Linked DNA regions of Homo sapiens. The protein of the gene in region 3 interacts with the protein of the main gene of each other region in a biochemical or structural test. Each region holds a gene or a part of one and is shown on either strand. Other genes may lie near its edges. The genes, in order: COL5A1, CALCR and THBS1.

Region 1 (3,654 bases), on a different chromosome or scaffold from region 3:
GCCCATGGGGGTCGATCCGTCCCAGAAAGACGTTCTGGGCTTGAAGCGGTGTTTAAAACACTCAACGCCAAGCGTCAGATGCAACGTCCAGTGTGATCTCGGTCAAGGTAAGGCAGGAAGGGCCTGGTGAGGAGAGGCACTGGCCCTGCTAGGCAGAGCTGTGGGTAAGATCTGACGTTCCCGGGCGAGCCCATGGTGGGTCGTGGAAGCCCTGGGGCTGCCTGCAAACCTGCTGCTGAGACAGCACGTGCATCTCAGAGGGAGTTCATGAGCTCTGTCACTGTCCAGAATCAATATCATAAGGGAATCAACATCATAAGGGAATCAATATCATAAGGGAATCGATATCATAAAGGAATCAATATCAACTAGGTTGGAGTTTTTCCCAGAAATGAGTCAAGCAAGCTGCAAGGTCCCAAGAATACACTGACACCTCCACCAGGAAGCCAGCCCAGATTGTGGACTCACCGTCTGCCCGGGTTCACCATCATCTCCTTTGTCACCAGGGGGACCATCTTGACCCTATGGAGGCAAAAGCGAGCTCCTTGCTGAACCCCGGATGGCACCCTGAGTTCATGCACCAGTTCCCAATGCATCTCCAGCCCCTTCCCAAAACCCAAATCCATTCTGGTGCCAGCACAGAGCATGGTCAGTGGGGTCAAAGGCGTTTTCTTGCTCTGATCACCGGAACACGAGTGCCTTTTGGGACATTGCCTGCCCCAGTGGGAGTTCATCACAAAGAACCACCAGAAAGAGGGGAAATGGGGCTGGCAGAGGCAGGCCAGCACTGTGGGGGATCCGGTGGCTTTGCCCTCTTGAGCACCTACCGCGGGGCCAGGCTCTCCGGGGGGGCCAGGATCTCCAGGAAAACCCACTGGGCCCTGAAAGGAAGAAAGAAGGAAGCAGCCAAGGCCATCAGCAACCTGACTGAGACCACACACGGCCAATCATGTCACCACCTCAAGATGGCCACCTGCCACCGTCCAGCTCCTAAGACTTTCCAGCAGTTCCGACAACCCAGTGCACTTTATGGCCCAGAGACCCTTCCACGTGCAGCATGTCCCAGAGCCAGCAAGCCTGGCCAGTGGGCATGGCAGGGGTCAGCTGGTCTCTTGCTTTCCAGAGCCAAGCAAGGGGCAGGCGTTCCGCCCACAGGTCTATTCCTGGGAGCTCCAGGCTGCAACTAGAACCTGGACCTTCAGACTTCCGGAATGTGCCTCTCCGAAGCCCCTCCTGATGCAAAATCAGGGCCGGCCAAGGGCGGGGGCAACTTCCCAAAGCCTGGCTGTCACTCGTGCATCTCAGCCGGCCGCCTGGCCCACAGAGAAGAATCACTCAGGGCTTTCTCCTCCAGTCCACGCCCTGTCTCATCTCCACTATTTTGGTTCAGTAGCTGGTATGAAAACCTCTAGTGTCTAGAAAATTTACCCAACACATGGAATGGTCTTGAAGCTGTTCTCAGAGCAGAGTGCACCGCCAGTGAGTCAGAATGATCCCAGTGCAGAGCCCCGCCCCTGCTGCAGGGCCCCTGAGGTGTGTCTGGAATACTCACAGGGCTGCCTTTGGGACCATCATCTCCGGGAGGGCCTTTGGGTCCAGGGGGTCCGGCAGCACCTGAAGGGCCTGACTCGCCCTTCTCTCCCCTTTCTCCTTTGGGTCCCTGGAGGAAAGAGGCCAGTGTCAAGTCCTCAGAGCCAACCACGTCGCCGCCCAGAGCAAGGTGGGCCTCCCCGGTTTTCTCACCCCATTCAGACCAGCCTTTCCAAGTATCTGCTGAGCCCTGCAGGGGGCTGGCTGCCAGGTCGCTCCCCAAGCCCTGGGCAGAATCAGCTCCTGTGTGCACCCTGAGGGGGACCTGAGGAGCCTTCACTTTCTGGGGCCCTCAAAGCCTGAGATTCAGCTCTGGGTGGGAGGGACTGACTCCTGGACCAGACATCAGTCAGTGAAGACCACAAGGGGTGCCCACAGACTCCACGGATCTCATGGGGAGGGAGCAGCTAGAACCAGAAGACCCGAGTCCACCCAGCTGGTCCTGGGCCTGAAAGCCACCTTTGGGCTGGCCTCATAGTGAACATTCATCTGGCCTGAGAAGGCCTGGATATTCCTAGTCTGGCCCTCAAGGTCCGGGGGGACGAGGTGACAGCAGCTGCCCCGCGAAGGGGCCAGGAGCAAACACTACAGAGGGTAGAGTTACTGCAGGCCACTGGGCACAGGTAGCTATTGCTAGGTCTGCGTGTACATGCTGACTCCCACATCACACACCTTGTTCACGGTCATTCCATGAAATGGGCACAAGAGGGGTTACAACTCCCATTTCGTGGATGGAAAAGCTAAGGCAGAGCCAGAGCCTCCAACCCAGCACCCCGTCCACACACCCGCTCGGCCATATCCCACCCCTCCCGCAGCGCCCGCTCACTCACCGGGGGGCCGCCTTCTCCCGGAAGGCCAGGCTCACCTGCTTCGCCAGGCTCGCCCTAGGGAGACAGTGCATGTGGTTATGGCAGCGGTGAGCACCGCGATGAACGCAGTGCTACGGTTTCAAGCATTTGCCAAATCCTGCCTGCTGTCTGCCTGCCCCTGGGCACCCAGGACCCAGGGGTTTCTGGGGAGTGCTGTCCCCACACACTCCCAGAATTGGAGGTGCGTGAGGAATGTGGCAGGCACGTGATGGATACAGGGCAGAGTGTCCAGACTGCAAGCAACACTGTCTGTGAAGGCTTTCCCGGAGCGCTGCTCCAAGGGTTGTGGAGGGCAACTATGAGAAGCTGGTAAGTGGCTAGGATGGCACTCCAGGTGGGGGATGGCCAGGGCCGAGGCAGGAGGACAGGCACGCAGTCCTCAGGGACACAGGCCAGAGGGACGCAGGGAAGAGGGCATGCACAGTGGCAGCAGGTGAACAGAAACATGCGCCCTACAGCGGGGACACCAAGGAAAACACCGCCTCTCTGAGCAGAAGCCGCACACCATCACCCTGTGGTCTCAGCAGGGCATATTCCTCTTTAATTTCTGTATCATAAAAAATGAGCAGCGGTGGAAGGCGTCTTCCAATTTAATGGCCTGATTGATGTCAGAAAGAAAGCTCTGGAAACGGTGCACAGGGGGCTCAAGTGCATGGATGTACACTCTGTCTTCCCTCTTGTCCAGGGGAACTGGGAGAGGTGCTTTTGCAGTCAGGCAAATGCTGTCCCACCCAGCATGCAGGCACACACACATGCACCGATGTGCACACAGGAGCTCACACACACAGGCACACACACACACACGACTGGGTCCATGACGCTCATGGAGTCTGGGCTCCAAAACCAATCAGATCAAATGGAGAGGACCCATTTGAGAAAATAATTCGGCTGAAATGGAAACTGCAAGCTTAGAAACACCAGTTATTTAAGGAATAGATGATCTCCACCAGAGCTGAGTCTTGGAGGAGGCAGGGGCTTTGCTGGTGGGGCATCGTCTGGAAATTCTGCAAAAGGCTGTCACAAATGGACAGTCAGAGTTCCCAGTTCCATTTCACAAGCATCTGCCTACATTTCAAAATGCCCTTCATAGGAATAAACCAGCCATGCCCACAGAAATGAGTACTTCTCATCTCTGTGTACACACAGAGAGGTACACACACGTGTATGCACCCCCACAAGCGTGTGCATGCGCACA
Region 2 (3,654 bases), on a different chromosome or scaffold from region 3:
GAATCCATTCATGACGGTTCAGTGCTATAAAGGGAAGTTGTATCCAGGCCTCCCCTCATGTAAGAGAGAATGCAGTGGGCTCTCAGGGGCTGTCCTGGGCTGTCCAGTGTCTGCCGCACTGGATAGGAGAATGGCTGCCCTAGTTCCATTCACCTTTACCCAGATCTAAAGCCCCATTGAAAGCATAATGCTGTATTTGGATAGCAAGATAGGATGTGGGAGTCCTTGGCAGGAGTAATTCTATCACAGGCTCTTAGGCCAGAGTTTTGCTGTCTCTATTACAAATTTCAAAATAGTTTTATTTTCTATATTAGGCTTAATGTGAGGAGGAGGTCAAAATTAATAGGGCCAGAAAGAAAGTTTAGGGATCGTTTGAATAGTTCGAACTGTTCTTTTAGCCATAATCAAAACTTGGGCACAAGAAATCTTCAAGCAGTGACCAGGACTCAGGCAGTTTCTTAGTCCATGTCCTTATCTGAGCGATGAACTTGGCGGTGGGTACAGTATTGCACTAGTTCACCATGACAACATAGGACACAGACCCACAGCCTCCCACTATGACACTTGTCTTGTAAAAGATCCCTCTACTGAATTCTGCAAGGTCTCCATTTTTAAATTTTCTAAGTGTAGTTTTTTTTTTTCAAATTCACCATAATCAGCATATGCTGCTATAAATCTCCATGTTAAAGGGAGCAAAATATTATTTAGATTAGCAAAATATTAATCCGTCCTTCTAGCCAAACGATGGAATCCTAACAAGAAAAATATATTTCTAAGGGAATATTCTTATAGTGCAGCACTGACTATGAATGGTAGATAATTCTTTTTCTTGCTTTTTTTTTTTTTCATCAGGCCTTCTCTGGGCAGTCTATTATATTGTTTACTAAACAACATAATGCACACAAAAATAACTTCAACTGTATTTTTCCTTCCCTTTTTAGGGCTTCTTTGTTGCGACCATCTACTGCTTCTGCAACAATGAGGTAAGCATGCATTTCATATAATACTATCACTTGTTTGTGTAAAGGCAGCATTTTTTCCAAAGGGCCTCTGTACAAATTTCATTTCATCTCACTTCTACAGTTGACCTCATAGGGTTTTGTGATTAGCAACATGATGTTTTTTCCACTACTCCAAGCTGAATCTTATCCATGGATGTGTAGTACAATGGCAAATATGATTCAGACAGGCAGTTAATTTCCTTGGGTTGCATCTTGAACAGATCAGCACCCTCAGGAGCAATAGTGAAAGCTATTCTGGATGCCATCACAAAGAGAAGTCATATTCCTATTCCCTTCGGAAGACCCGAGCCCTCACTAGGGCAGAGACAATCTCCATTCGGTTTGTACTAGTTCCTCACCTTCTTTTCCAGTTGCTTGGTGCTAACGCCCTACTACTTACTCAGCGTTTTGAAAATCACCCTGAAGTGAAGATTCAAAAAGGATTCTCAAATAATCTACAATGTGAATATTTAGATCAGTAAAATCTAGAGAGCCATATGGCTGATCCATTCTGTTCTCAGGGTGTTTTTAGCCAGAGTTACCCTTTCTTCCAACCAAATCTTGCCTGGGAGCCAAATCTATAAAACATAAAAATGGAGCTTCTATAGCTCCAGACATCCTTCCAAAGAACTTCCAGGGTTTTAGGGAACATGATTCAAAATCTTCCTCATTTTTCAGGGAAGAAATCTGAACTCCAGAAAGATCATGTGATTTACCCAATGTCACAAATGCACTTATGGTTATAACCCAGACTGGAACACAGATTTCCTGTTTTTCAATTAAACTGACCAACTCCCAATTAACTTATCTATATCTATAATTCCTTCCTGGAGCTATGTTAGTATGTTTTTTCTAGGACCACACAACTTTTAATGCCAAAGCATTTTTGAACATTTTAAATCAATTCCTATTAAGAATAATTCCATACAAGGCAAATCACATTTTGCCAAGACATCAATATATTACTTTCCTATTAGTAATTAGAAACATTTCTAGCCATTGTCAGTTGCTAATTTATTCTCTATCTTTTTACTAAGTTAAATAATATTTAGTGAGCACCTACAATATTTTGCTATTCTGTGACCTGTTCATACCCGTTTCCAACCGCAACATGACAAAGTTTTTGTTGTTCCTATTCTCCATTTTAGTTATTACATTTTATTCCTTTCTTTCTTCATCCATTCACCTACCAACTCATTCCTTCATTCAACAAAAATACATTGTGCATTTACTATTGCTAAGGGCTAGACTAAGGGCCTAGAATAGAAATGAAAAGACATCCTTCCATTGCCCGCTGTTAGAGTGGCAATATTTTTAGAATTTTAATATTTTTTAGAATGATAAAAACTAATAAATGAGTAGGGCGTAAGTCACCCCGTGTTTATATCAATTTCTGTGAATGTATATCCATGCCTTTTGGGTTGTTTCAGGTGGCATGCAAAATAAATTTTTTGTCTAAAATAATATCAAAATAGAGCTAATATGAGAAATCAGGCTCAGTGGGGCATACCTGGAAAAACACAAGAGGATTGCATGCATTCGTAAAAATACCACAATATTTATTGTGTCTTATCTATGATACTGTCATTGGAAGTGTCAGACATAGAAAGCAAACCCAGGGGTACCCTAGCAATTGAATGTCTCGAGTTCATTTGACTATATGTTATCTCTGATTTTGAAGTAAAGAAACCATTTCCATTTTCATTAAGATCCCGTTACTGGGGGAAGGTAAAAGTGTGACATTTCTAATAATATAGAATTGTGTACTGTGCCAGATGTAATATCACAGACCCATGGATTTTAGGCATCTGGGTCTCAGCTGGTCATTCTGCGAATGCATCACCTTACAATATTGAACACAGGCAGGGCACTCACACATGCAGGAAGTTATTTCCAGCTGCATCTAAGATAGGGCTGTGATGGGATGGTGCCTGGCTGAATACTGAGTTTTAGCAGAAATCTAGGGGGCTAACTCAACATAATAATGAGATCACATCACATTGTGTTATGTGCAATTTAATTTTGATTATGATTGGTATGTTATCAGTGAAATTATTATTTCATTTTTGAATTTTGATTCATTATTGGTATGTTATCAGTGAAATGATCATTATGAAAATGAATTATATAGAGAGTCAGTGGGTAGACTAGAAGCAGGAAAGGAACTTGAAGAATTAAAGTAATAGAAATCAGGAGAGGACCATGAGAGCATGCTTATGTATCAAGCATTTCCTACAATGACTCTTCCAAGTGAGTGGACATTGATTATCCAAACATATCAGTAAATTATTAGGTACCTAAGAGACCTGAAAAAGATGATTGCAGCTATAAAAATGCACAATTTGTTTCCAAGAAGTAGCATAGAAATGAAAGTTCTAACAACACACTAGATTTTCTCCCTTTTCTTGTGTCTTTCTATTCTCCGTACATCGTGGATAAAATAGTTTATAGAAGGAAGTAGCATGATCAGAAACATCTCCATTTAACTGTCACAAATTGGAGTGTGCAAAAGCTAAAATTTTGTTTATTTCCTGTAGCTTATCTTGCTTTCAAGAGACTATTCCACCAGCCTCTAGTGGTTTACAGCAGTCTCTTTATAGAAAATATTCAGTCAATTCAAAAAGCCTTTGTCCAAAAGAGCAACTGGCTACCA
Region 3 (3,654 bases):
CTCAAGAGGCTGGTTGGTAAGAGTATCTATTTGAAGTTTTCATTTTGTTTCTTGCCAGCTACCAGTGTCCTCCTCACCCTTGACAACAACGTGGTGAATGGTTCCAGCCCTGCCATCCGCACTAACTACATTGGCCACAAGACAAAGGACTTGCAAGCCATCTGCGGCATCTCCTGTGATGAGCTGTCCAGCATGGTCCTGGAACTCAGGGGCCTGCGCACCATTGTGACCACGCTGCAGGACAGCATCCGCAAAGTGGTCAGTGGCCTCTGCACCCAGCCCGTTAGCATGAACCCTGGAAGGTTTATCGCAGATGGTCCCAAATGACTGAAAATGCGGGGGGACACTAATGATATTCTCTCCCATTTAGACTGAAGAGAACAAAGAGTTGGCCAATGAGCTGAGGCGGCCTCCCCTATGCTATCACAACGGAGTTCAGTACAGAAATAACGAGGAATGGACTGTTGATAGCTGCACTGAGTGTCACTGTCAGGTAAGGGACCTTCACCAGCCAGAATAAGAATCGACGGCTTTTGTTTGAACCTACATCTTTGGGGAAATACCCTAATCGCCACAGAGATTCTTTTTATGTTCCATGGCCTGATAACAAAGTGTTTTTTTTTTCTTTAAGATGCAATTATGGCATCTATAAGTTCTTCTTTAAACTCTCAGATGGTTTATCAAAGTATTAATTATACCCCAGGCTAAGTATCTAAGAGAATGAATCTACTAAGACATCTGAATAATTTACCTACCTTAGTTCAAAGACTAAGTGTTGAATGTCAGGTAAATAAAACCTGGTTGGAACATTCATTTTTTTTTCCCAACCCTGATTTATATTCAGCTTTGGCATAGGTTCTTTTAGTACAGTAGCAATTGTTTTTCAAATCACTTAGTCTGACACTGTTAGGATGTTACTGTCTGCTTTGCTCAGATGGCACTGCCAGGTGTGTGATTCACTCTAGCATCCCCGCATGCCAGTGGCCAGTGAGTTTGGAGGTTCACCTGGCTTATCTATTAATAGCAAAGTATTTGAATTTGCTTAAATACAAATCACAGATGACTGGCTGTGGGAACCAACTTCATTAAATTCCCTTTCTTTTCCAATATAAAGACAGATCACAGATCTATAGATGAGGAAAAAGTGCTTATAGATCTTCCTTCCTCCCCCCAAACACATAATATAAAAATGTAAAAGTCCTGGCTGAATTTTCTGAGTTTGATTTCAGACATAGATTTGACCCATGATGTTTGTTGGTTCCTCTGCTATAAATTCTTTGTACTGTAACTTCCACCCTTGACTAAGTAGCAATTAAAAAGAACTTTCCAAGGAATGGAGTGACACGTAAACTAGCACTAGAACTGTCTCTACGATAGTGGTGGCTGCAAATATGACAGAGACAGATCTATGAAAATCATTCCACTAGAGCATTGACAGCCCTGACCATGTTTTGGCTTGTAAAGGAAATGTTACAGGATGTAGACTTCTGTATGCAACATGCTCAGCAGCCTGTTCCCCTCTCACTCTCTTGCCCTGCAGAACTCAGTTACCATCTGCAAAAAGGTGTCCTGCCCCATCATGCCCTGCTCCAATGCCACAGTTCCTGATGGAGAATGCTGTCCTCGCTGTTGGCGTAAGTTTCTCAAATGGCATAGCTATTCTTCAGTGACTAGGTCAGTTCTACATACATCCTAGACAGCCGAGCACAACACTGGAACCCCACCCCCATCTCCATCATGCTTCCATTCAGTTTCTTGCTGCAGCAGCTGGTTAACTGACAGCTTATCTGCTGTACAGAGCCAAAACTCCATTATGAGTACATCGTAATTACCCATCTGGATTGCAGTAATGGCAGTGAAGATCTTGGTATAGCTCATTAATTCTGATTTTTTGCTTTGAGGAAAAGAGATGAAGACGTGGCAGCAACAGCTCTAAGTTGACTGCTTTTAGAATTTGACCTTAGTGGCACAGAGTTAAGAAAAATCTGCTCACCAGAGATATTGACAGGCTTACTGTGTAAGCATTGGCCTGATCGGGCCTGGAAGTTTTGCCCCTTTCATCTGTAGGGATAAGAGGGCCTAAGAGAATAGCAGCAATCTGAGCTCTAGAGCACCAAAAGAAATAAGGCACGATATCGTTCCATGGCACGTTATCCCTGGCTTTTGTTACCAGTAAAATGAATGACTTTGCTGAGACAATACTTAGTGTAGCAGGTACAAGTTATAAAAGTGATTCATTACAACTAAGATAAGGAAGAAAACAGGAAAACAGCACTTGCCCTTCACACACACAGAAACACACATGCACACACACACAAACACACCCTTGTCACAGCTCAGAATAACCAATTCCATCCAGGGATCATATTAGCGATATTGGCACTGTAATGGTCGTTTTTACATTTATTTTCTGTTCCGCATTCACTTAACATGTGCGTTAAAAGGAACAAAGCTAGCTGGAGGTAGCAAAGTTTTGAACTTGAATCAGGGATTGCTAAGAAAACTTACAACTAATGACCACAGAAAGTAAGTTCTTTGTCTTCTGTCTGATACAGCTAGATGTGATTGTAGCCGTGGTGCCTGGGCAGATGGTAAACAAACATGCTGTCCTCTTATGACAATATGTGCAGAGAAGGCCCCAAACGCTGGGGTGAGAGGAACAACAAACTGACTAACTCACGGCCGAGTTGGAGCCAGAACCAACAACAGCTCGGCTGCCTTCACACTCATCTGTCAAACACATGGTGTATGGCTCCCCTGACAGAAATGACTCCTATAAGCTTCCTCATACTCGCGCATTCTTGGAAGTCTGAGACTGGAAATGCCTACCCAGATATGTTAAGTCAGTAAAGGAAAACTCATTTGCAATGCTGAGAGGAGAAAGAAAATCAATGAATAGGAGAGCATACACTGTGGGAAGGCTCAGCTGTACTGAGCCAGGCAAAGCATCCGATTACCCCACTGCTGTACACATCATGACCTGGGATAAACCCCTGGGCCGTTGGCCTAAGAAATATGTTGCTTTTCATCCTGTATAACTGCAACTTTGTGCCGGCTCATATTATGTTCTAGAGAGCTCATGTACACCATGGTGACCATAGTTAATAATACTGGATTGTATGCTTAAAATTTGCTAAGAGAGTAGATCTTAAGTCATCACCAAAAAAAGTAACTGTAAGATGATGGAGATGTGTTAATTAGCTTGACGGTGGTAATCACAATATATGTGTATATCAAAACATCACATTATACACCTTAAATGTATATAATATTTGTCAATTATACCTCAGTAAAGCCAAAAAGAAATAAATATATTGCTTTTCACCCTCTGGCAAGTGGAGGGCCCTGAACAGAGCCCTCTAAAGAACAGCTTGTCCTAATCATCACGTACCTGATGAACCTCTGTTTCCCCTGCAGCCAGCGACTCTGCGGACGATGGCTGGTCTCCATGGTCCGAGTGGACCTCCTGTTCTACGAGCTGTGGCAATGGAATTCAGCAGCGCGGCCGCTCCTGCGATAGCCTCAACAACCGATGTGAGGGCTCCTCGGTCCAGACACGGACCTGCCACATTCAGGAGTGTGACAAGAGATGTAAGCATCTTAGCCTCTCAGGGACGTGGAGAACTGACCTGTCCTTGTTGTCGTCACCAAGGG

Evidence for each region.
Region 1: the proteins of THBS1 (region 3) and COL5A1 form a complex in vitro, tested with the Homo sapiens proteins (one study listed by BioGRID).
Region 2: the proteins of THBS1 (region 3) and CALCR form a complex in vitro, tested with the Homo sapiens proteins (one study listed by BioGRID).

What each region holds. Positions count from the first base shown.
Region 1 is NC_000009.12:134,812,803-134,816,456, reverse strand, and holds part of COL5A1 (collagen alpha-1(V) chain isoform 1 preproprotein), read right to left. Parts: intron 2,475-3,654; coding exon 2,421-2,474; intron 1,661-2,420; coding exon 1,553-1,660; intron 882-1,552; coding exon 828-881; intron 523-827; coding exon 469-522; intron 1-468. UniProt on the Homo sapiens protein: Type V collagen is a member of group I collagen (fibrillar forming collagen). It is a minor connective tissue component of nearly ubiquitous distribution. Type V collagen binds to DNA, heparan sulfate, thrombospondin, heparin, and insulin.
Region 2 is NC_000007.14:93,431,582-93,435,235, reverse strand, and holds part of CALCR (calcitonin receptor isoform 2 precursor), read left to right. Parts: intron 1-941; coding exon 942-983; intron 984-3,654. UniProt on the Homo sapiens protein: G protein-coupled receptor activated by ligand peptides amylin (IAPP), calcitonin (CT/CALCA) and calcitonin gene-related peptide type 1 (CGRP1/CALCA).
Region 3 is NC_000015.10:39,583,930-39,587,583, forward strand, and holds part of THBS1 (thrombospondin-1 precursor), read left to right. Parts: intron 1-58; coding exon 59-258; intron 259-370; coding exon 371-493; intron 494-1,540; coding exon 1,541-1,634; intron 1,635-2,196; exon of another isoform or gene 2,197-3,324; intron 3,325-3,417; coding exon 3,418-3,591; intron 3,592-3,654. UniProt on the Homo sapiens protein: Adhesive glycoprotein that mediates cell-to-cell and cell-to-matrix interactions.